2 separate regions of the Homo sapiens genome follow, and region 2 is linked to region 1. A link means that fine-mapping ties the variant in region 1 to the expression of a gene that starts in the linked region. Tissue or cell type: whole blood. Region 1 holds a variant in brackets; the other region holds the start of a gene. All regions are shown on one strand. Distances are from middle to middle.

Evidence for each region. PIP is the estimated chance that this variant, and not a neighbour inherited with it, causes the effect.
Region 2: it holds the start of HIF1AN, and the variant in region 1 is fine-mapped to the expression of HIF1AN in whole blood (TOPMed, PIP above 0.99).

The regions. Positions count from the first base shown.
Region 1 is chr10:100,576,765-100,579,602 of GRCh38, reverse strand. No RefSeq gene overlaps it. Among named protein-coding and RNA genes, the nearest start is that of HIF1AN, 42 kb to the right of the region's middle. The variant T/C (reference allele first, on the strand shown) is at 1,228.
Region 2 is chr10:100,534,482-100,537,121 of GRCh38, reverse strand. It overlaps HIF1AN (hypoxia inducible factor 1 subunit alpha inhibitor), which reads right to left and starts at 1,179. Exons shown (of 8, transcript NM_017902.3): 1 at 987-1,179; 2 at 461-711. The coding sequence starts at 1,163. RefSeq lists enhancers at 1,200-1,259, 1,330-1,419.

The DNA of each region.
Region 1 (2,838 bases):
CCTTGACCACACTGGCACTTCTTTTTTCCATTCAGACCTCAGAGGTCAGCTCGGAATATCTGCATCTCCTGCTGGAAGTTCCTCAAGAATCTCAATCTCAACTCATCTACAATGAACTCACCAAATCTCCCTGCCCCAAATCTATTTGTGTATTCCCAGAGGCAGCCACCCAAACCGGAAACCCGGGGGTCATTGTGAATGCCATCTTTTCATCACCCCTTTCATCTAAGCAATAGCTAAGTCTTGTGAGTTTTCCCTCTTGAGAGCTTTTCAACTGGCCTCATGTGCTGCTTCTGCCTTAGCTGTGGCCTTCATTTTCTCTGCAGTACCCAGCAGTAGGCTTCAAACTCTGCCTTCCAGTGGTCTCCTCTAGCCCCAGTCCAGTCTGTTACAGTGAATAACAGTAACGAATCTTCACTAAGGGCATTTTCACATGCCAGCCTGACCTATACAATCTCACTTCATTCTTGCAACAACCCTAAGAGGCAGGCACTATTATTATTCCCATTTCATAGATGAGGCGATCAAGGCACAGAGAGGTTAAGTAAGTTGTTAGCAACACAGCTAGTAAGTAAGTGGCAGTGCCAGGATTATTCCACAATGCAAATCTTAATTATGTCATATATTGTCCTAAAATCCTTTATGGGCTCCCCATCCCCTTAATACAACGACTCAAATTCTTTAGCCCAGCAGACCTATCCACCTCTCCTGTGCCATCTTTACCTCTGGGTTTTAGTACATACTGGTCTTCCTGCCAGAAACTCCCTTTTCTCTCTGTCTCCCCTCCTGACTTTTTGTGGCCTGTGTAACCCCTACTCATTCTTCTAACCTCAGCCCAGGCATTGTCTCACACTGAAACCTTCTTTGATGCTCTGCTCTCTCCAGTTTGGGTCGGTGCCTGTGGTGAACACTACAACGTGCCACTCAGATCCCCTTCAATGTGGGACTTATCACCAGTTGCTCGGAGTGCTAGCACACAGGCCTCAGCTGTCACCTCCCATAGGAGAATGGCTTCAGCGGAAGAAAGCTCCCTGGCCCAAGGTTACACCAACTTCCTGGGCCCACCCTTATCCCTGACCCATCAGTGTCAGAGTATAAAAGCCGAGCCCTCTGGCCACAACTTGGGAAAAAGCTGAAGGGCCATTCCAGCTCCAGAGTAACCCAGAGGGCAGGTCTTGGCCCAACCTGACTCCCTCCTCTCCCTTCCACAGGTTCTTATCTCCAGAG[T/C]TCCCTGCACATTAATCTCCATCTCAGAATCTGCTTCCTTGTGAAGCCCCCAGTGCTCACGTCCCCCCAGCTAGGCTCTGAGCTCCCTGCAGACTCTGATAAAGGGCTGGGGTGCTACCGGAGAAAGGCGCAGTCCCCCATGAGCCCTAGCCCCAGGGGTAGCTCTTTAAACATGGGGCAATACATGACAAAACTTCTGCCTTCATCCATTCACCTGCTCACAGCTTCTTAATCAGATAATTCATCTCCAGGTGGCCTTGGACTTCCTGGCCCCAGATGAGTCATTAATTTGGTGACTCTTGCTGTCCTCCAGTACTCCCAAGCCACACCCCCAGTAACCCCCAAACTAGACCGTGAGGCCAGAGCCTTGAATCTGTGAGGTTTCAACACCCTGTCACACACTGGGACCACTCTGAAAACAAGTTACTCACACTAACACCACTTTCAGCTGTGATAATACGAACAAGCAAAGCATGAGCACTCTCGGACCTCACATCCTTGAATTCCAAATTCCAAATCCCAAACCCTGATCCTCACATCAAAGAAATAGCACTGTGTCTTAGAAAAGGCATGACTTTAGAAGCAAATGAATCTGAGTTCAATTCCTGGATCTTCCCCTTATTGGCGGAGACCTTGGGTAAGAAACTTTAGATACCTGGCTCGGCATGGTGGCTCACACCTGTAATCCTAGCACTTTGGAAGGCTGAGGCGGGCGGATCACCTGAGGTGAGGAGTTCGGGACCAGCCTGACCAACGTGGTGAAACCCCATCTACTAAAAATACAAAAATTAGCCAGGCATAGTGGCGCACATCTGTTGTCCCAGCTATTTGGGAGGCAGAGGTTGCAGTGAGCCAAGATCGGGCCACTGCATTCCAGCCTGGGCAACAGAGCAAGACTCTGCCTCAAAAACAAAAAAGAAAAGAAAGAAAGAAAGAAACTTTAACTACCTGAAGCCTTCATCTCCTCATCTGTGGAAGAGATGCCATGGCAATCCCTTCTCATGAGGATTTGGTTTGTTTTTCATTAAGATACCATCTGTAAGACCCTCAGCACACAGAGGCCACTTGGTACCTGTTAGCTCTTTTCCTCTAAACTTGAGAATCCTGAGTCCACAGAGCCAAAATAATAATAAAATGGTAACTCTTGCTTGTATAGTACTGACTTTATGCCAGGGATTGTTCTAAGCAGTCTATTCTAACTCGGTCCTCAACAATCCTGCAAGGTACATACTAGTATTAACCTCATTTTGCACTTGAGGAAATGGGACACAGAGAAGTTACGTAGAATGTAGCCTTGAGAGCCACATTCAAGGAGCTGTCTAGGGGTCAAGACCCTGAGGAAGCGTCATTTACGGGTCTCAAAGGTCTGCTAAACATCAGCTGAAAGCCTGTCCAGGGAGCTGAAGAAGGGGAAGAATGGGAGCCTGGAGCAAGAGGAATATTTGTGAATCACAGAACTCAGTAGTTTGCCCGAGGTCACACAGCTAGAAAGAGGTCGAATTAGAACTTGGGCAGTCTGGCTCCAGAGTCTGTTATCTAGGTGTGGGAGGGCCTCATCTGTGAAATGGGATCACCTCCTCTGTAAATGGGAATAATAATAGTGCCTGCCTC
Region 2 (2,640 bases), 42 kb after region 1:
TCCTGGACTCAAGCAATCCTCCCACCTCGGCCTCCCAAAGTGCTGGGATTACAGGCATGAGCCACCCCCGCCGGCCTTGGCTTCTCACTTTGAACAAGGCTTATGCCTTCAGCCTCATCACTGATTTCACACAGACGATATTACTCCTTCCATTCACCTGCCTGACCCTTCTAGGCAACTAACTCTTTATGAGGAAGAAGATGGGAACCCAGAGATTCATAGCTCAAGTTTAATCATTCCCTCATCCCTCAAGCTACAGAACTAGCTGGCTGTAGCACCAAGAACCACTAAGAACTCAAACCCCTTAAAGGCTGGAAGACCAGACTACTCCTTCAACTGGAATCCAGAGATGGGAGAGGCCAATCTCTAATTGACCCAATTCTGCCACACCTTCAAACAAGTATAGGAAAGAAAAATGAGTGTCCTAAATCCAACAGAAAATTAAGCTTTCGGAATTTACCTCTCTTCCCCTCCTCGCTGCTGTATATCCTGCAGTTTCTCAACGAACTCATGAAATTTCATTTCTTCCCTGTTGGACCTCGGCTTAAAGTTCTGGAAATTGGCCATCTTCTTCTCATCATAGTACAAGAACTTGTGGGTGCTGGCACTGTACACAGAGAAGTCTCCATTGCCAATATTCTCTTGCAGGTATTCAAGGTCCCATTTCAGGGCAGGATACACAAGATTTGTGTCGGTCAGCACCACAGGCTCCTAAATGAAAACAACAGGTGAAAAACACCAAATGAAGTAATGCCAAGGAGCCGGTGGGTTGGCCTCCATGATCCCAACTACTTCTCAACTTCAGAATAATTTCTCCTGTTAATCAGCACGAACCCCTAAGTTCCGTATCTCCTCGCCTTTCTCTCCATCTTCCCATAGGCCCTAGTCTAGAGCCCTGCCAGTCTCCCATCTCTTTCACCATTCACCTCTGACCTCTCAACCGGGTACCTTCCTCCTCTCCCTTTAGACGCGGCCCCGCCCCCCACCTCATTCTCAATAAGCTCCTCTGCCCGGGGGTCGCTCTGACTCAGACGCGGAATGGGCCTAGTCGGGAAGCTATAACTGCGCAACTGGGATTCATCCCAGGCGGGGCCGAGGGCTCCAGCCTCCTCCCGGGGCTCTCCAGAGCCAGAGGCCACAGCCTCCGCCGCTGTCGCCGCCATCTCCGCCGCCAGGGACGGCCCCCACCGGAACCGGAAGCTCCGCCTATTCCGGACCCCAAAAAAAAAAAAACAAAAAAACCACACACCCAACGGAAACCATAGAGATGAGCTGCGAGAGAGAGCGGTCCAGAGACATAAAGAACGCGGAGCCGAGGCCTGAGGGTGCGCCTCCTAATGGTAGTATGCAGCTCTACATCCTAGGCTCCACTGCTGAAGAAATGGGGCTAGACACTAGTCCCACGGAATAGGGACGACCTGGTAGAGCAAAACACAAAAAAAGTTGCCCCATGTGCCCGAGTCTACACAAGAGTCAAAGAAGGAAGCAAGTTCAGTTAGGCATTAAACTTTACACTCATGAATGGGGAGAAAAGCAAACTCTTGACCCACCTAAAGAAGTCAGAAGGAAAAGCAGTGATCACATTGGTAGATGTAGAGCAAAGGCTGACTGAAGGCTTAGGCAAAAGATATACAGCAAGTTGAATTCTTTCAAAATCAAAGACAGTTTTCTTTTGTTTAGCATCATTTGATTTTTCTGCCTATATCACCATGTCTCCTACTTGAATATATGTTTGCCGTGAATCGAATGTTATTAGAGGCCAACCATGGACATCTCACATTTTCAAACAATCTATACTGATTATAAAAGGCCATATTAATACCTCTATTGCTTACTTGGACAGTTCTTATGGCTGGCTGTGAGAGGCCCAATTCTAAGATGTATCCCAAGATTTGTACCCTACGGTGTACACATCCTGTATACATTTCTCCCCTTAAAAGAAAACACGACTGTGAATATGATAGAGCATCACTCCTGTAATTAGGTTAGCTTATATGACAAGGATGTAATTAAAGTCCCTAATCAATTAACTTTAAGGCAGTCAAAAAGAGGTGATTTATCCTGGTGGGCTTCATCTTATCACTCTAGCCCTTTAAATCAGGGCTAGAGGTCAGAGACAGAATCTAAGAGATTTGAAGCCACAGCACAGCTGTCCTGTTCACCTTGAAGGAGCAAACTGCCATATGGCAGGAAATGGCAGGTGGACTCTAGGAGCTGAGAAAGGCTCCTGGGTGACAGCCAACAAGAAAGTGGGCACCTTAATCCTACAAATGCAAGTAACTGAATTCTGGCAACAACCACTGAACTTGGGAAAGGACACACACGGAGCCTCAGATGAGATCGCTAACCCAGCCAACACCTTGATTTCAGCCTGATAAGACCCTGAGCTGAGGACTCAGCCAACCAGTACCTGGACTCATGGAATATGTGAGAAAATAAATTGGTGTTTTGGGCTGCTAAATTTACAGTAATTTGTTATGCAGTAATAGAAATGAATGCACTGGCTTAACTATGTAATTATGCTACATAGTAACCATGCTACACCAAACCGATAATAGGGCTACCTCTGTGGAAGTGTTTGAGGCTGCAGGGGGCAATCAAGGCTTTCATTTTATCTGCAGTGTTTGAATTTTTTTTTTT